Linked DNA regions of Homo sapiens: all the other regions are linked to region 1. The links come from fine-mapping of genetic effects on gene expression. A gene starts in region 1. Each other region holds a variant in brackets. All regions are shown on one strand. Distances are from middle to middle.

The links.
Region 2: its variant is fine-mapped to the expression of GPATCH2L in whole blood (INTERVAL, PIP above 0.99).
Region 3: its variant is fine-mapped to the expression of GPATCH2L in lung (TOPMed, PIP above 0.99).
Region 4: its variant is fine-mapped to the expression of GPATCH2L in whole blood (INTERVAL, PIP above 0.99).

What each region holds. Positions count from the first base shown.
Region 1 is chr14:76,148,939-76,154,092 of GRCh38, reverse strand. GPATCH2L (G-patch domain containing 2 like) reads right to left here and starts at 2,171. Exons shown (of 10, transcript NM_017926.4): 1 at 2,102-2,171.
Region 2 is chr14:76,209,410-76,214,563 of GRCh38, reverse strand. GPATCH2L (G-patch domain containing 2 like) reads right to left here. Exons shown (of 10, transcript NM_017926.4): 10 at 221-5,154. Among named protein-coding and RNA genes, the nearest start is that of GPATCH2L, 60 kb to the right of the region's middle. The variant G/T (reference allele first, on the strand shown) is at 2,151.
Region 3 is chr14:76,263,253-76,268,406 of GRCh38, reverse strand. All of the region lies in intron 2 of LOC105370575 (a long non-coding RNA gene), which reads left to right. Among named protein-coding and RNA genes, the nearest start is that of ESRRB, 110 kb to the left of the region's middle. RefSeq lists an enhancer at 387-681. The variant C/G (reference allele first, on the strand shown) is at 3,048.
Region 4 is chr14:76,200,399-76,205,552 of GRCh38, reverse strand. GPATCH2L (G-patch domain containing 2 like) reads right to left here. Exons shown (of 10, transcript NM_017926.4): 10 at 1-3,862. The coding sequence ends at 3,702. Among named protein-coding and RNA genes, the nearest start is that of GPATCH2L, 51 kb to the right of the region's middle. RefSeq lists an enhancer at 1,830-2,259. The variant G/C (reference allele first, on the strand shown) is at 2,991.

The sequences.
Region 1 (5,154 bases):
CTAACCAGAAGACAACTGGGACAGGACCCAAAACAAATTCGGGGGACTAGATCCTTCTCTCTTTTCCCCAATTAAACTTGTCATTGAATTACCTAATGATGAGATCCAGAAAGATTAGAGACTGTCTCACTAGACAGGAACAGAAAAACATACAACTTCAAAATCACACTAGAGTTGTGGAAACACAGAGTAGCACATGGTCTCATCGAGGTATTGAGAATGAATGAAAAACTGTTCTTTGGCCTGGGGTCACTGCTGACAATGACCATGGCAGAAAGAAACAGAAAGACAACTTAGTGACACCATTTAAGGAAGAATGCAGTTTTCGTGATCCAAGAAATTGTAGTGACCCAGGTTTGAAGTCAGAATGGAGAAGAGACTAAGTTTGCGCCCATTCTGGTACCAACTACCACCTGGAAGCTACCAGGTATAGAACCTTATACAGTATGTCATATATTTTTGAATAATTAACAATTTTTAAGCCCCTCTCCTACCCTCCAGAAAATAAATGTTGGTCCTAGTTATGTGCTTCAGTGCCACACAATCACAGAAAACTAGGATACAATAGCAGCTGAAATGACAGGGATAGGGTGAAGTTTCTAAGATTTCTGGCCAAACTGCTTTCCAAAATTTCTTATTTTTCTGTTCATCCTCAAACCAAACATCACACTTCAGGGGTCACTTCAGAGACAAACATTTCAAGAAATGACAGTAGTAGGAGCAATCTTCAAAATTCCCCCTTAAGGGGAAATATTTAATTTGTACAGCATCTAATTAAATACATATTAAATTTTTAGCACTTTTCTCTTGCCTCTATGCCCAAAGTATTTCAAGATCAGCTTAAAATTCTAAGTGGTGCCACTCTCTGACCATATTCCCATTCATTCAGTTTTCACTTTGCAAAGGGCTTTCTAAAACCTATTTTCATGCTGTGCCTATGCCAATGAACTTAAAGACAGGAAAACAGTCCTCTGGCTTATCTGCCACACCTGTAGGAGCAATAGTGACACCTACTTCCAAAACTACCATACAAACGAAGCTTCTCAAAGTGTCCAAAAGCACATACATTTAAACAAGACCAAGTTCTTTTAAGCATTAAGAAGTGGTTTATCAACACCTGTGAAAAGAAGGGGAAAAAATGGGAAAAAAAAAAGTGGATTAAAATGCCATGATTGAGGTTTGGGAGACAACTGTCCCTAAGACCAAAATAAAGAAACAAGTGGGAACAGCATGTCAAAATCTACTTCCCTAATAAAGAATTACTGCTTTAAAAACTCAGGCAACAAAAATACAAAAAACAAAAACAAAAGAACAAATAAAAACCTCAGGCAGAACAGCACAAACTTGAACATGGAACGAAGTCATCAAACAACTTGCAGTCGAATGCCTGTGCAGAATCCTTTCCTGCCTCAAAGCCTGTAATTCCAACAGTAGTGACAAAAGAACCCTAGAACTCCCCATCTCCAGTCGCGGATGCACACTCTCGAGAGGACCCGGCGGCCAGGCACGCACCCGGGCAGAGATGAGGCTGAGTCACGCACAGGAAGGAACGGGTAGCTGGTGGACAGCAAGTAAGAAGAGAGACAGGAGCAGGGTGGAAGTGAGGGGCGGAGTAGGAGGTGGGAGAGGCAGGAGGCAACTGCTCATTTGGGCTCACGAGGGGCGGGGATCGGCTCTTCTAGGGCAGAAACTGCCAAAATGCAAGTCTTGGCGACTGAGCTCCCTCCGGGATCGGGGGTCGCAACATGGCCACATATATGACAAAAACTGTGTTTCGAAGGACTCTCCACCACGCCCCGGCCCGTCCCTGAGGGCTGGGGCGACCATGGCTCGGGACACCAAGCCCTCAGGCTGCAGCCCGCCCCAGAGAGGCAGAAAGAAGAAAGGGGAAGAGGGGGCTGTGGCCCCGGAGACGGCCCGACCCACATCCCCAGGGATGGGGACAAGGGCCCTGAAAAGCAAGGCCCCACCACCCTCACCCTCCGGCCGTCTGCCGCAGCCCCAAGACGCCCTTAGCCGCTCAGCCGCGGCTTGGCGCTCCGATCCCCTCTGGTACTAGCCCCCAGGACCCCAACACTCTCAACCCATTCCTCCCCCTCACCAGCTGCCGCAGCCACCTCCAACGGCCGCCGCTTTTTGGGCCGACTCTCACCGCCGGGGCTTCCCTCTCTGACCTCATTTCCGGTCTGGGCCGGAGGGGTGGGGCGGTGGCGAGTGGGAGGGGCTGGCTGCACGATTGGGCCCCTGACCCAGTGCTTCCGCCCGTGGCCACACCCACTTCCGCCCCGCGGTGGGCGGAGCCACAGGAAGCCAGGAGATGGGGCAGGGGACAAGGAGGGGTGTTGAATAGGGTCTGGCCGGGAAAGGGCGTCTCAGGGGTTGAGGTGCCCCACGTGGGGAAAGACCCCTGCATGCTGGCCTCATCTTCCTTAGGGGCTTCCAGAAATTGGGCGCTAGGCAGGGATGTCAGCTTATCTCTTGCTTTCTGACCTTTTTAATGGGTCTGTGAAGTTGAGGGGAAATGGATCTTAATGACGTCTACCCTGTGAGCTGGTACAACCTTTGGAAGAGGTTGTTTTGCACTGAGTTACTCAGAACATTTCAAATTGCCTTGAGCAATAAAACAAGTGATATTGGATTATAACTCAAAGTACAAAAGAAATATTCATGAGCCCATGCCGATATAAGTGATTGAATAAATTAACGAATGAGGAAGAAGAGATAAATCCCCCACAGAAGAATCTCAAATAACTTATGTAGACAGCCATCCTGCAGCATAACTTCTGCCTCCTTAAATGTGGGCTGTGCATAGTGACTTCCTTCCCAAAAGTACAACATCTGTAAAGGGGAAAATGAGTGATTTTACAGGGGAGAAACCTGGCAAACAGTAATTCAGCCAGGTGATCAAGACTATGTGCTAAATCATGTTGATAGTATGTGGAATGATATATGATGAGAATGGCACTTTATGGTACTTTCCTTCCAAATCTCATAACCCAGTCTAATTATAAGAAAAAAAAATCAGACAAACCCGAATTGAGGGACATTCTGCAGAGTGCATGACCAGTATTCTTCAAAATTGTTAAGATCAGCAAAGGCAAGGGAAGTCTAAGAAACTCAGAGCCAAGAGGAGCCTAAGGAGGCATGACAATGTAATATGGTGTCCTGGGTGTGACGCTGCAATTGAAAAAAGAACATTAGGTAAAAACTAAGGAAATCTGGATAAAGTATCAACTTTAGTTAATCATAATGTATCGGGCCGGGTGAGGTGGCTCACGCCTGTAATCCCAGCACTTTGGGAGGCCGAGGCAGGCGGATCACCTGAGGTTGGGGGATTGAGACCATCCTGGCTAACAGGGTGAAAACCTGTCTCTGCTAAAAATACAAAAATTACATGGGCATGGTGGCACGTGCCTGTAATCCCAGCTACTCGGGAGGCTGAGGCAGGAGAATCACTTGCACCTGGGAGGCGGAGGTTGCAGTGAGCCAAGATCGCACCATTGCACTCCAGCCTGGTCTACAAGAGTGAAACTCCGTCTCAAAATAATAATAATAATAATAACGTATCAATATTGGTTGCAATTGTGAGATGTGTTATACTTCTGTAAGAGTGAATAGCCTGGTGTGGTGGCTCACACCTGTAATTCCAGCACTTTGGGAGGTTGAGGTGGGCGGATCACCTGAGGTCAGGATTTCGAGATCAGCCTGGCCAACATGGTGAAACCCCGTCTCTACTAAAAATACAAAAAATTAGCCAGGTGTGGTGGCACATGCCTGTAGTCCCAGTCCCTACTCAGGAGGCTAAGGCAAGAGCATCGCCTGAGCCCAGGAGGCGGAGGTTGCAGTGAGCAGAGATCGAGCCACTGCACTCCAGCCTGGGCGACAGAGTGAGACTCAGCCGTCACAAAAAAAAAAAAAAAAAGTGAATAATAGGAGAAAGTGTGAATTACACAGAAACTGTAACAATCTTCATAATTTTTATCTAAACCCAAAATTATCCTAAAATAAAAAAGTTTATTTAAAAATATGCACATACCTTGGACCCTGAAATTTTGCCCCAAAGAATTGTATTCTAAGGAAAAATTGGAAATGGGCGCAAAAATGTTAAATATAGGTAAATCATCTCTGCAGCATTTCTGAGGGAGAGATGAGGAAACTAGAAAAAGCCAGAAGTTCTACAACAGGGGTTAGTTAACTAAATTATGGTACATCTATGGGTGGAATATCTTGCAACTTTTAAAAATTAATGTTGCAAAAGAATATTTAATGACATGAAAAGCCATCGACTTATGATTGTGTACATTTCTGCATGACTGTTATACTTCAATAAAAAGATTACTCTAAAAATGTAGAGTATGATTCCCATACAAAGGAAATTAAATCTATACTCGCAAAGGAATATGACCAGAAGAAGCCACCATACAATATCCGAAATGGTTTCATTATCAATGATTATATCTCCTATCTATTGTTTTTTGTGGATTTTCAGAATGTTCTATAGGTGAAAAAAAGTCAAGGTAGGAGACAAAGATAGCTGAGGTTTTGAGCTAGGGCAACTAAGACAATGGTCAGTGCCATCTGCACAGCTAGAGAAGTCAAGAAGATAAACGGGTTTAGTGGAAAGATGATTAATTCCATTTTGGACATGCTGAATCTGTGACTCCCACAGGACAGAAATATGGAAATGTTCAACAGGTGTCCACAGCCTTAGGCCTCTTTTCTGCATAAGTGAAAATTCTCTCCCACAAATCACATCTGTTCCCACGGTGTTGATTGCCTGCATCAGCACTGAAAGCTCCCAAATTTCTTGAAATCCAACTTATATTTTCATTTTTCTACTAGATAGCTCCACTTGTTCACCTCACCAGCATTTCCAATTTAAAATGTCAAAAATAGGCCAGGCGTAGTGGCTCACGCCTGTAATCCCAGCACTTTGGGAGGCTGAGGCGGGTGGATCACTTCAGGTCAGGAGTTTGAGACTAGCCTGGCCAACATGGTGAAACCCCGTCCCTACTAAAAATACAAAAAATTAGGCAAGTGTGGTGGTGGGCGCCTGTAATCCTAGCTACTGGAAAGGCTGAGGCAAGAGGATCACTTCATTCCAGGAGGCAGAGGTTGTAGTGAGCTGAGAGCACACTGCTGCACTCCAGCCTG
Region 2 (5,154 bases), 60 kb before region 1:
CATCTATGAACCTGAAGGCAAGCTCTCACCAGACATTGAATCAGCCAGCACCCTGATCTTGGACTTCCCAGACTGTGAAACCATAAGAAATAAATTTCTGTTGTTTATTTTTTTAAAAAAATTAGGTAAGGTAGCAAGATATATTAGCATACAAAATCAGTAGCTTTTATATAGAGAGCAATAACCAGTTAGAAGACATAATGGCAGAGGAAATCTCATTTACTAGCAAATAAATTAAATACTTAGGGATAAGCTTAGCAAGAAATGCACAAAACCTACACAAGGATAATTTTAAAACACTGCTAAAAGGCACAAAATAGACTTGAATAAATGGAAATACATCTCCTATTCTTGGATAGGATGACACCACATTTTAAAGATGTTAGTTCTCTCTAAATCAGTTAATATCATATAATATCAATAAAATACCAATGTACCTTAAAAAATGAATTTAGACAAGTTGATACTAAAGTTCACATGGAAAAACAAACATGTATGAATAGCCAGAAGCACAATAGGAAAAATTATAAGGGGGACTAGCCTTGCCAGTTGTTAAAACATACTATAAAGTCTCTATAATTAAAACAGTGTGGTACCATGCACAAGTAGACCAGTGGAACAGAAAACCCAGAAAGACCCAAGTACATATGGATCCTGGATTGAATACCGAACCAGAAAAACAACATTACTGGGAAAACAGCTACAATTCAAATAAAGTATGTAGTTAATAGGATTGTGCCAATGTTAATTTCCTAGTTTCAATAATTGTACCATTGGTATGTAAGTTAACATTAGAAGAAGCTGAGAGAAGGGCACACAGGAAATCTATTTTTGCAGATTTTCTGTTAAGTCTAAAATTATTTTTTTTAAAAAAGGTTTTGGATCAAGAGCCCCTGAGAATGTGAAGAGGGGGCTCTGTGTCAGGCTAACATGGAACACCAGAGGGAATAAATCGCCACTGCTCACATTCCCTGAGCTGGCCTCACTTTATCTCTGGCTGGTGAGCTTTTGCTTGGATTCTATAAAATACACGTCTTTACAATAAATTCCATTCCATGCTTTAAAATGTAAAATAAAAAATTGGTGTTACAAAAAGTTTCTGTTAATTCTCCAAATGCATTTCTTTGTTTTCATTGGGTCTTTAAAAGTATTTAGTCTGTCATGCTAATTGAAATACTTACTTCATTTCTTCTATGACAATTGTTATATTAGATTTCTTTTGATGTCATTTTTTGGCAAACTATACCTTCCTGGAAAATTATCCATTTAATCCAAGTTTTTAAATTGTTTGCATACAGTTGAGCAAAGAATATTTTATGACTCTTACCTATTCAATACTTGGTAATTCTTATTTTGTGTTTGTCTTCTCTTGTAATGTTAGCTAAAATGTTACATATTTTACTACATATTTTAAAAATTAGCTTTGTTTCCTCATTTTTCTAATTAATTTTTCTTGATTCTTTTAGCCTGCCTTTAAAAGATTCCTTTTCCTAATATTTTGAGTTATATGACATTTATCTTATTTTTTAATACATAAATTTTAGGGCAATGAATTTTCCTCTGAGCACTGTTTTATTTGTATCTCAGAGGAACAAGTTTATATTTTAGATATGAAATGTTTTTTTAATACTTTGCATTTCCTAATCAACCCAAGAATAGTTGAAGAGCTTAAAAACATTTTGGATTGCAGATGAGCAGTGTTTTCTGGCTTTAATTTATTGCATTTTTTTTTCTGACCACCTATCCTCAAATTCTAAGTTTATTGCATTTTTATCAGCAAATGCCATCTGTTGTTCCTTTTTTCCGTTCTGAAACTTATGTTTTCTGTACGCTCTAATACACAGTCAAATGGGGAAATGTTTCATGGATACTTTGAAGTGTAGTTACCACTTTTAGGGTAAAGTCTAATATGCATCAACTAGATCTTCTGTATCTTATTTAAATCATCCCATGTCCTAGTTTTTTATCCACTTGATCTGTCATGAATTGACAGAATTGAATTAAAATATCCAACTAACATTGTATTTGTTTCTTCCTGTGTCTCCTATGGTTTCCAATACATAAATGGTTTTCCATTATTTGGTACACAGATATCTAGAAACATTATCTCGTGAGTCACACCCTTTAGCATTATGTCGTGGTTTTTTTTG[G/T]TTTTTTTTTTTCCGGTTCCTTTTCCCTAAGTTCAACCTTGCCTGATATGCAGACTACAACTCATTTTCTTGTTTGTGTTTGCTTGGTTTACTTTTGCTCAACCTTTCTGAATCTTATAACATGAAATTAGTGTTTGCTGACATTTTTGCCTTTTATCTACAGATAAGTTTACTTTTATTAATATGACAGGTACATTTGTTCCTATTCTATGGTTTTAGACATCTTTCATTTTTGTGATTTGTTTGGTTGTGCATACATGTTTTTTCTCATAATTAGCAGTCTGAATTTTTCTTCTAGTGATAATCTCTTTAATCATATTTTCATATGATCCCCATAATCCTCTATTTCACTAGTCAATATACCTTAATTCTCTACTATGAGCAATGAAAAATTAGTAATTTACCTGTCCTCCCTATACTATTTTAATAATGGAACATAAGTCACTTTCTTATTTCTATGTACAAAAGCTAGACTGCATCGCCTAATTTAAAATGCTGGTCAGTCAGAAGCTGTTCAGGAAAAATGTTGGCCCAAAACTCATAATTATTTCACTTTTATGCAGTTTCAAAAGATTTAGCTAACTTTATTTATAGCACGGTATTAATGAGACCAAAATCATGGGATCAGAACTTAGTGTGAGCCAGCAGATTGGTTTTATCCCATGGGCACTTCCTGTAGGCTTAAAATATCAATGATTGCTAAGGTGTTCAGTCCAAAAGGTGTAAATAGATCAACACAAATTTATTGTCACTACTGAGAAACAAAGCCCAAAAAACTTAACTGGTAGTTGAACAACTTTGACACTGAAGAACAGTACAAGGAACTAAGACCATCACATTGTGCATTAAACTCTACTAAGTCGGTGGTTCAAGGGGAATAACCTCAGACTGGTATCATGCTAGAACATGTAATGGAATCAGTCAGCCATGATTCCAAATACACCATTACTTCCAATTCAGTTTAACCTAGTTTTAACATGTCAGTAGCTCCTACCAATAAGTGGGCCTAGCTATATTTCCCACGGAAGGTGATCAAGGCAATGCAAATCTGTTCACATCTCAGTTCCAGCTTTGTATGCACAATGGGCCAGTTGCAGTAGGGTTTCCACGAATGCACCCTGAGCTTAGCAGAGGAATACGGCAATAGTTCTCCAACTCAACAAGTAAGCCAGTATACACAGGACCCTTCACTTCCTGGCTCTTGCCTTTCTCTCTTTGTTCCTCTGTAAGCTTTACATGTGGGCCATACTAAAACACTTGCAGTGCTCTGAATAAACCATGCTTTTACCCTTGGAGGGCTTCATCCACTCTTCTTAACTCCTGCTTATCCTTCAGGATTTCTTTCAATGTTTTTTTTTACTTCTTCCACTGCCCAGTTTGAGTTAAAGTGCCCTCCTCCTTGCTGCCAAAATACCCTGTCATTCTTATTTCATTCTACATTGTAATACTTTTTTTCTGGTCTCTTCCGCAGAAGACCATGAACATCATGAGAGCAGGAATGCCTTTCTTCTCTGTATACCCAGCTCCTAGCAGAGTGCTTGGCATAAGATGTGTTCCATACACATCTAATGAATGAAGGGGCATTTCTAAAAGCCAAGACTGTTAAGGCAGCTTTTGCTAACAGTCAAAAGAAATGTTTACCAAGGTGTTGAAAACAGTCTATCACTAACATTAACATCTCAGAACACATATCCCCCTCACTTAGGAATCAGTTGTGCCTTGGTACAGAAAGGATAATACCTTCTTATTGCCACAGGTTTGCAAGATCTGCAAAATTTCATTGACTTTTCTCTTGCTCTGGTCACTCTCAAGAACAAAACTAGGTTGTTATAAGAGGATGTCACAGAAACCGGCTATCTCCTTTCAATCATGTACGCACAGAGAAGGGATGAGCCCATTCACAGTTGCCTGGTAGAGAAACAGCCCACCAGGACAAACAAGTCAATAAAGAGGTCTCATCAGACACTGGCCCATGGCCCAGTGGCCCACAGCTTATGCATATGTACATGCCCTCCAACAGTTCAGTTTGTAAAAAGAGGCAGCAGAGGTATTGATTGGGAACAGACACTCTTTAACATCAGACTTGAATCTGAATCTTGACTGACACTTAATAGATATGTGACTCGAGCAAGTTTGTCTGTAACTGTAAGTGTATTTCATTGTTTTAAAATGGAGATAAAAGTACCTACCTTTAGAGTTGTTGAATAAGTGAGATGTTGCTTCCAAATGGCAGACCACCAAATACATATTTGCCATTATTATTATTAGGTACTCTGGACAGGGGCCTAATAGTTTCAAGGATAGTATATCTAAGGAGCCCAGGAGTATCCTGCTTTAGGGCAGTTACCCTCTTCCCTAAGAGGTCCCTGAGGAGGACTTCGCTTCATCAGTGTTCAGTAAATGTTTGTTCAATCAGTGACTGGGGCAATGGTTCTGGTGGACCTTTGTTATTCTTATTGGCTGTCCAGCATCTGAAGTACCTTCCCATGTGTGAGGAAGCTCAACTTTCCAGATAACCTCATTCTGACTTCCTAGCCAGGACACAGGCATATGACTACTAATCAGATCCACCTACCCCATATTTTGAATCAGAAACTAGTGATTCAAAGACATCAGGAACACACAGGGTCACATCTGATGAAAGTGGAACCCCAAGTTTCACTGTATTCATAGGGCTAGTGCTGATGCCCCAATAAAAAGTTCTTTGATAAAAATCAACATGAAGTTCAAGGCCAAAAAGGCTTGAGGAAGCCAAATTAAAAAATTAACCAGCAGCAGAAAGCCACAGATTAAAGACAGCATTAGGTGGAGGAGCCCCTTTTGGGCACAGGCCCCCTTACCAGTCCAAGACCCGGAAGAGGAGAAAGCAGAAGAGGGAACACAGTCCAGGCCATCTTTTCATAAATAGCAACTCATAAGTAAACAGGAGTGACCCACCTTAGAATCTCACTAATCTAATTAGCAATTCCTCCTACCTCACTGGGCTTGGAGGAGGAACAAGGGA
Region 3 (5,154 bases), 110 kb before region 1:
TCTTTGGGGTTATATTCCTTAGCAAGCATTTGTAATACAGATACTGTGTTTTCATTAAGTGTGGAAACATGGCTTTGAAAATGAGCCAGATGAGAAACGGAATTAACATGCTCTTAGGAAAATGAAGCTGCTGGCCCGTACTCCGCATGAACAGAAGGACGGCTGTGGGACCTCTAGAAAACAGCGGTGTTCCTCCAACGACAGTTCTAGAATTCCTCTAAGACGAGCACAGGAAGGTGGAGGTTCCAAGGTGGACGGTTAGAGTGGACATCTGGGATTTATCTGCCAGACAGTTATTCTCTTTCCTCTGGTAAGAAGCTCTAATTTTCCTTGAAGACCTCCTCTTTTCTTTCTATCAATGTTGGTAGAGTGGGGCTGACCGCCCCCGGCCCCGGCTCCCCGACATGCCCCCTCCCCCGCCCGCCGGGGCACGTGACCAGCTCTGGCCAATCAGCTTGCTGTGTTCTCCGGGCCACAACGATCCGCGCAGGAGGAGCGTGAGGTCTCAGGAACTTAAAGAGAATGAACCCTGGGGATTTTGTTGAAACTATTTGTAAAGACAGCCAACTGCTACCATTTACGTTTCCCCTGGGGTTGTTAGGCTGAATGGACGCGGACCTGGGGCTGCTGAAAACCCTGTTGTCTCCAGGAGGGGAGCAGTTTCCTGGAAATGAAACTCGTCCAGAGGAACGTAGGGCCTAGAGGTAAACGGGGCTCTTTCAGCCCCCGCTGGCTCATGGTAAATCCCAACTACATTTCAGGATTGGGGAATAAAAATGAAGAGCTGGAATAAGAAGAAAGAAAGTAGGGGCACTGGGCACCACGTGGCCCCTATGTTTTCCCTCTCCAGCATAATTCAACTCCTCTTGGCTATGAATATCTGTAGAAGCCCCACGTCTCCATTATGCCTCTGGCTGGCGGGAGGTTTTGTTTGTTTGTTTGTTTTAACCAGACTCCTTGGCATTCAGAGAGAACATTCAGGAAATGTATTGTGGAGGCAGACCATTAAAAACATGCACCTGGGCCGGGCGTGGTGGCTCACGCCTGTAATCTCAGCACTTTGGGAGGCCAAGGCGGAAGGATGGCTTGAGCTTCGGAGTTTGAGACCAGCCTGAGCAACATAGTGAGACCCCCATCTCTATTAAAAAATACAAAAATTAGCCCGGCATGGTGGTGCGTGCCTGTAGTCCCAGCTACTTGGGAGGCTGAGGCACGAGAATCACTTGAATCCAGTAGGTGGAGGTTGCAGTGAGCCAAGATTGTGCCACTGTACTCCCCCCTGCGCAACAGAGCAAGACTGTCTCAAAACAACAAACAACAGAATAAAACCATGCACCTGGTACAAGGAGTGAAGTTAACATCTCAAAAACCCTCAAACCCTGTAATTTTCCTGGTAGCTAAGATGCTTGATATCTCTTGGTATCTCTCTCTCCCTTTCCTTTCCTTTCCTTTCCTTTCCTTTCCTTTCCTTTCCTTTCCTTTCCTTTCCTTTCCTTTCCTTTCCTTTCCTTTCCTTTCCCTTCCCCTCCCCTCCCCTCCCCTCCCCTCCCCTCCCTTCCCCTCCCCTCCCCTCCGCTCCCCTCCCCTCCCCTCTCCTTTCCTCCCTCCCTTCCCTTTTGAGACGGAGTCTTGCTTTGTCGCCCAGGCTGGAGTGCAACGGCAAGATCTCGGTTCACTGCAACCTCAGCCTCCCAGGTTCAAGCGATTCTCCTGCCTCAGCCTCTCGAGTAACTGGGATTACAGGCACTCACCACCACACCCAGCTAATTTTTGTATTTTTAGTAGAGACAAGGTTTCACCATGTTAGCCAGGCCGGTTTCAAACTCCTGATCTCAGGTGATCCACCCGCCTCGGCCCCCCAAAGTGCTGGGATTACAGGCGTGAGCCACCGTACCCAGCCCTCTCCTCTCTTTCTAAATCAAGACACTTCTACTACCACAAAAACAAAAACAAACAAAAAGACAGGAGCAGTAGTAATGACTGCCAACTGCTACCATTTACATTTCTTGAGTGCTCACTGTGAATCAGGCCCCTAATTCTCACAGTGAGCCTGTGAAGTAGGTATCATCCTCCCCATTTTATAGATGAAGAAACAGACTCAATAGTTAAGTAATTTCCCAAAGCTAGGAAGTGGTATAATGGAGATTTTTTAAATAGCTTTATTGAGGTATAATTTACACATCATAAAATGTAGCCATTGTAAGTGTATTCCAATGATTTTTAGTGAGTTTACAAAGCTGTGCAACCCTTGCCACCATCTAGTTCTAGAACATTCCCATCATCTTAAAAAGATCTTTTGTCTATTTGTAGTCTCTCCTTGTCCTCCTTCTCTAGCCGCAGGCAGCCACTAATCTACTTTCTGTATTGATATGGTTTGGATCTGTGTCCTGTCCAAATCTCATGTCGAATTGTAATCCCCAACATTGGAAGTGGGGTCTGGTGGGAGGTGATTGGATCACGGGGGTGAATTTCCCTTGGGTGCTGTTCTCTTGATAGTGAGTGAGTTGTCATGAGATCTGGTCATTTAAAAGTGTGTGGCACCTGCCCCTTCTCTGTCTCTTCCTCCTGCTTCCCCTTCACCTTCCACCATGACTGAAAATTTCCTGAGGCCTCCCCAGAAGTCACTACACTTCCTATACAGCCTGCAGAGCTGTGAGCCAGTTAAACCTCTTTTCTTTATAAATTACACAGTCTCGGATATTTCTTTATAGCAATTTAAGAATGGACTAATACATGTATCTATAGATTTGCCTTTTTGGATATTTCATATAAATGGAAGCATACAACATGTATCTGCGTGGTTTGCATCTGACTCCTTTCACTTAGTTCATAAAGTTTTGAAGTTCATCCATGCTGTAGCAGGTATCCGCACTTCATTCCTGTTTATGGGTACATAGTAGTCCATTGTATGGACATGCGACATTGTATTTATGCATTCATTAGTTGATGGACATTTGGGTTATTTCCACTTTTTGGCTATTATGAATAACGCTGCCATGAACATTTGCATACATGTCTTTGTGTGGACAGAAGTTTTCATTTCTCTT[C/G]GGTATACACCCAGCAGTGAATTGCTGGGTCATAGTTAGAATTTCAGCCCTGGTCTGACCCCAAAGCCTCAACTCACTACCTTTTGTTCACTCCCTTCCTCATCCCTTAAGGTCAGTCTCCAGCAGCTCAAACCCTTAGCCAGGACATTCCCTTCCACTCCTCACTCTACCCCTACCTAGGGAAATATTGTCGTTTCCACCAAGTGACACACTGAGAAGATGAATGCCAGTGATGGGTCCATGGAAGAAAACTACCCTCTTTAAAGGCACAGGCAGGGAGAAGAGGGACTGCAGCAGAGGCACCTGGGGTCCCAGCTGCTTTCAGCAGCAGCTTCAGGCTCCTAGGATGTCCCAGCACAGATGCCACTTGTCCTCTGGCCTCCACCCTGGTCAAGAAGTAGAGTGATGACAGGTTCCTCTCACCACGTAGCTTCCTCTATGCCTTCCAAATGGAAGTGACACTTTGAGGCTGGCAAAAAACGTTGGGGTGGTTGGAGGGGATAGAATGGGGGAGATGACAGACACCTGCTGTCAAGGGCTGTCACAACAGAACTGACGGTAGCCATGCCTCCTCAGGTCAGGTTCGGAGCCAACACTGCTGCTTTCCCCACACAGCGACCAGCTCTCAATGGAGTCTTTGATGAGCAGCCCGCATTTGGCATCGTGGTGTCTGGCCTGCAGGGAGGACCCGGGGGATGTAAGCTCTGGGAGAGACCAGCATGGGTGCTGGGGCAGAGGCAGAGAGGGAGCTGCAGAAGAGAATTGTCTGTCTTTCCACCAGACTGTAAGCTTCTTGAGGGCAGGGACTGTGTCTGCCTACCATACTACAGGAGCAGCACAGCGTCTGGCACATGGCATAGCAGCTGCTTAGGAAATACTGGTGGAGCAAAAGAATGGGTGAAGAAATGAACAATTATTGGAACAGCTTCATCAGAGGCAAGTTGCAGAAGTTCAGTGGTGGAGGTGGCTATTAACCAAATAATTATGGCCATCTTCTAGATAGTTGGAGATGTTCTAGCCTCTGGGTAGGATGTTTCTTCAGGGCACATGTAAAATGAGAAGAGTGAGGTGGAAGGATCTTCTCTGCTCACAGCCCCTGAAGTGAAAATAGCAGTGCAGCCTGGGGCACCACCAAAATGCAGGCCTCTCTGCTGCTCCTGCTGCCACTGTTTGGCCTGGGTGGCTTGAGCACCTACCAGCCCTCACCTTTCCTCCATCCTCCCTCCTCTGCCTGTCCTTAGCCAGCAGCAGCCGGACCACCTGTACGGGAGCAGCCAGCATGTGGCAGAGGAGGTTTCATGCCACCTCTTGCCATCAGGGAAGACCTGCCTTGAGAAGCTGCTCACTGAGGGCCCTGGGAGATGCTAATGACCATAAAGAGTCATCCAGATGCAGAGGTGATGACAGTCTGTTGCCCTCTGTCTGCCACTGCATTTTAGAATAACCTTCCCTTCCTACGAATCCAGATCTAAAAGGTGCGGCAGTGTTTTAAGGCTTCCTTTAGAACTTCTAGCTATAAACCCCAGATCTGAATCAGACCACAATGCAATTACAGGGCCTCTCTGAACCTCAGTTTCTTCATATGCGTAATGGGAACAATAATACCTACTATACCCAGTTGTTGTGAAGGTTAAATGGGTTGACATAGGTGATGTGCCAGGCATAATGCCCAACTGTATGAACACCTGCCCTTCCATGCCATGCAAGGCTGACCTTTCTCCAGGATCTGAGACAATGATACTCACTCACTCAACACTCATACTTCCACCCCACCATAGCCTCACCCCAACATAGAACCTACAACCCATTCTCCTTGGCATTTATGCCTCTCCCAAAACTCAGTCACTGTGCATCCATTGCCTGGTATTTTTGCTTTATTTCTGGAACCCCATCCCTTTCCCACATTTAGTGTCAGGTGCCAGTGCGGTTTACAACACCAATGCTTGCAACTCCTTCATGCTGATGCTGTAAATCCAAACTTCATCTCTCCCCAGGAGCATCTTCCAATCAGCCTTGGCCATCACATGGTCATTACTATTTCTGCAGTTTCTCAGGAGCATTGCATGATGCTACACTAACAGTCATTAATGAGAGGAATACGTCTTTG
Region 4 (5,154 bases), 51 kb before region 1:
ACTTAACAAAGGATGCTACAAGCATCACAGACTAAGAAGATTTATTTCAGCTTTTGGCCATTTTGCTACAAAAATAGCCTTGTTAGTACCCTATTTCATAGCCCAGCAATGTCCTCTTCAATTCTGAATCGCATTTGATTTCTAAACAATTCAAGGCTAAATGTGGCCTATTTTCCAACCACATACCACTCAGTAAAAATTATACTCAGCCCCCTCCAAATCTGGTACCAGGTAAACAAGCTACTAATTTCTTTTTATTATTTCTTACCAAGAGGCAACACAAGGCTGGGCATGGTGGCTCGCACCTATTATTACAACACCTGGGGAGGCTGAGGCAGGAAGATTGCTTGAGGTTAGGAGTTCAAGACCAGCATAGGCAACAGAGCAAGACCCCATCTCTCCAAAAACTTAAAAAATTAGCCAGGCATGGTGGCACACTTCCATAGTCCTCACAACTCAGGAGGCTGAGGCAGGAGGATGGCTTGAGCTTATGAGTTCAAGGTTACAGTGAGCTATGAACACATCACTGCACTCTAACCTGAGTGACAGATCAAGAACCTGTCTCTAGGAAACAACAACAACAACAACAACAACAAAAGGCAACACAGGAGTTTTGTTCCTTTAAAATACTGCATCTGAAAAAAATCTAAAATTCCTTTAAACTCGTAATTAAAACTAACTTTTTATTATGATCCTCACAGAAGCAGATAATGTTCTGACTTCTGCCCATCGTGGAAAACACACTAAACTAGGATTCAGACAGGCCATTTGTGTAGCCAGCTGGGAAAAATCAGAACCCTGAAATAAATAACAACTGTTTAACTCAGCTTTAGTTATTACTTTTGAGCAGATCAAATACATGAGCTCAAGGATCATCCTCAAAGTAAGTCATAGTTCAGAGTTTTTTCAACACTGATTACAAAACCTCATTTTTGAAACTACGTAACTTCTTTGAAAGATAACAGATTTTTCTTAACTTACGACATTATACACTGTGCCGCATATAAAGAAACTTTAAGATTCAAAATACACTCATTTCTAAGGCTATCCTCTGGAACTGGTTAATACAGAAAGCAAGCAGAATACACTGATTAATAATTCCTTAAACATGCACGTACAGCACCTTAAAATGAGGAGCACAATTTACAACCCTGTGTTGGAAAGTATTTGTGTGCTTAATATTCTGTTCTCTCAGGCAACTAATTTTCTCCCCATTTATTACAGGTAGATGTTGCATTCTTGGGTAATCCCTGTTGAAAGTATTCAAAATGTGTAGAAAAGCATGCCCAAGAAAGATAATAAATATTCATGGTATACTGTTTCATAAATAAGCATCTCAGACTGACTCAGGTCTATCACTGAAAAACAAGAGATTATAACCCAGGGCAGAGAAAATCTGAAAGTCTGGGATTCTAGTCCTGGCTTAGTTATGTGATTTGGAGCAAGTCACTCAACTCTGTGGCTGTTTTCATCTCCTTAAAATGGCATGACTTCGTAGAGATGTTTGAAATGTAAATAATGTTGTATATAAAAATTATTTTTAATCATAGGTAGAAAGGCAGACTATTAGGAAACAAGTTATATAGAAAAAATGTGGGAACACCTTGGCCACCTGACCTTTGGAGGTTTTCACTAATAGGCCATGATCATGGGACCAATCACTGCATGAGTCATAGAGCTTGACACAAACAAAAAATTACGTCCACAGATTTCTCTCAAACCCAACCAAGTATGTTAAAAATATATGCCACGGGTCACTATGGTGACAATGCACATGACAACAAAATCTAACCTCATCACTAGAACAATTCAGTGGTACGATTTTATATTCAACAGACATTACATTTTCTATACTTCTACGGGTGCAGCCCACAGGGAAGGGAAGTGCAGCCTGGGAAGTCCCTGTAAGCACACACACTGCTGCATGAGAGCCAGGGGTGACTCAGAGGCATGCTGGGCCAGCTTCAGCACTCTCCCATCCCATCATCTCCACTCCTGTAAGCACACACACTGCTGCATGAGAACCAGAGGCAACTAAGAGGCATGCTGGGCCGGCTTCAGCACTCTCCCACACTACTGCATGAGAACCAGGGGTGGAACATCCCTGTGAGCACACACACACTGCTGCGTGAGAACCAGAGGCGACTCACAGGTCTGCTGGGCTGGTTTCAGCACTTTCCCGTCCCATCATCTACACCTGCTCTCCCTCTACCATATTCCTGATTATGAACAATTGATATGTTCTCAGTCTTAAAGTGCCATGTAAACTTAGCTTCAAGTCCCCTTTTCCAACTAGATTCATGCCCACCCACCTCCCTTTGATAAAGAAATCTGGAGTTTCCATTGATAAGGACTATAATTTTAAAAGCAACCCGTCATTACACTTCGTATGGGAAACAGGGGCAATCGCACTTTGGGGGAAGGAGGTGCTGCCCCATTCAGCACCTATTTAAGACAGAAAATAAGCAGATGCATGAGTGGGAGTCCCTCTACAATGTGACCAGAGCAGGGAGCACTTCACCAAGAGCTTCTATGTATTTCAGAGTAAACGCACTCATTGGTATAAAAAAAAGAGCCCTTCTGTCAGCTAGGCCCCTGAATGAATGACAGACACTCCTGATAATATTTTCTAGAAAGCGTGGCTTCTCTCCAGCAGCTCCAGGCCATCACTTATTTCTCATTTTGACAAAGTAGCATCCAACTTCAGGCACGACTGTATATATAACTCCACATGCAGCTGAGCCATCATAAACACGCCAAGTATAAAGGCATGTCAAAAAGACATTTTACTTCCCCAAAGCATGGCCCCAAGAAGCCATTATTATAATAGAGTATGAATTTCTGCTGCAGGTTATTAGCCTATAATACTAACAATAAAGTCCTGCTTAGGACATAAAGGCTTACACTGGGACATGAAGTAGTAAGACACAATCCACTGACTATTTTAAATTTGCTGTACACCTAAACCATCTTCTCCATTATACCAATCT[G/C]TGTGTGTGTGTGTGTGTGTGTGTGTATACACACGTCCTCTTTCAGTAGAACATAAACTCTGAAGATGAGGTAAAATACAATACAGCTGCTGCTGCTGATGAGCTGTCTGAGTTTCTGCAGACAATCTGCAAAAAAATGGAAGTTCTCAAGGCCCAGTTGCTGGTGTCTCTTTTGAGGCCCCAAAACTTGGTTGATTTATCTTATTGGCACTCTGCATGAATCAAGAGTAGGCTCAAAGGCAAGCCTTATCTCCTGCGAACACAATTCCATACAGGTCTCAACTCAATATTTAAATTTGTTTGGAACTGGCTACAAATTTGGAACTTCCTCAAATGATATTAAAAGCTCTACACAAAAGGTATGCAGAAGCAGTTACTGGTTTTTCAAGAACAAAGACAACTGCAAAAAAGCAACAGTTCTGTAAATGGAGCTGTAGTAAATGTTGAGACAGCAATAACAAGGTAACAAATAGAGCAGAGGATGACCTTTTTGTAAAAAATTGCTGCCTCAATATTTCACTATTTAAAAAAAAGATTCCCACAACATGATCTTCTGAGAGAAAGAATCCACTGCTGTGTTTGAAAGAGGAGTTGGTTCTGGTGGTGAAAGGACTGGGAATGTCGATTAAGATATGCAAGACTATCTAACACAAAGTCCAACATTTGCTTCAGCAACACCCAGTCAGCTCCTGGAGGGTGAAGTCCTGCTCTCTAGCTGTATCCAGGGCTCTTTTCTTGTGGCATTTTAAAAAATGTAGCAGTAGTTGCGTCTGTGGCTTTCTCTGCTGCAGAGGTCCTCACCAACCACTCAGAGCTGGGTGATTTGGGGGCTTGTGATGCTGGTGTGGTTGGCTCCACTGCATCCATGTGAACTAGTAAGGTTACAACAGAGAGGAGCAAAACATCAAGGGGAGATAAATTAGAATAAGACAAATTAGAATGAGAGATACTTAGAAAAAAAATTTTCTTAATCCTTATACTTCATGTCCTAGTAACCCAAGTGGCCACGTAAGGTATCTCTTTCTTCTCTACAAAAAAGTAAAGACAAGATTTAAATAAGATAGTATTTCCTAATCTGAGAAAATGGGTTCAACTGAACAAATAAATTCAGTAGCACGCATTCATAATGTAGTAAAAATCACTTATTACGTACTTATGTGTGTATTGCTTAAACAATGAATACTCATGATCTTGTTAATGCAAACCCTTACTCATAGATGCTCATAGAGATGACTCATAGTGATCTCCACTTTCTAGATCAGGGAGCTAAGGTATACAGAGATCAGATAAATTGTTCAGGGATAAAACAGAGCTGGTTAAATATCAAGATTCAAGCACACATACTGGACTCTAAACCCCACGCTCTTCCTGCCACAACCCATGCCTCCGATAGGGCAGTGTTACCAATAAATATATACCATACAACAAGGAAAATGGTAGAAAAAGAGCACAATCAGGCCCAATATTTTTCAATAAGATCACTAAAGACATTCTGGACAGGAGACATGGCTTGTGCAGGGCTGTCTTGTATACTTCAGAACACTTACCGATCTGGATCCTATCTGCTGAATGCCAGGAACACTCCCCAGTCATTGTGACAAACAAACATTTACTTCACATTTCCAAATGCCCCTGAGTGGAGTGGCACAAACCACCATCATCTCTACCCACTCTGCTGAGAACAAATATATACTAAAATATGGCAAAATCTAGGGAAGTTTGGATTTTACCGTCACCCAATAATTCCAGTCCCAGAAACGTAACCTAAAACAGTAATTTTCAAATTGTGGATCACAAAATCAATTTAGTGGGTCATGGCCATTACTTTTTTTACTCAATGAAAAAAATAGAAAGTATCGGCATGTACCCAAGATTTATTTCAGATTTACATGTACAACCAACGCACATATTCAAACATGAATTTCTTATTGTGGGCTAATGTAAAAATATCTTGAAAGCTGTTACTCTATATACAAGAGTTTCTTGAGGGCAACAGCTTTCAAACATTTTGGAACGTCACCACAGCAGCAGGAAATACATTTGACAACTCAAATCTCTCTCTTTTTCTCTCTCATACACACACACTCACAACAAACTCAGGCACATATACTCACTCATATTTAACTGGTAATAAATTTCAAAAAACTGTACCTACATGGTCACC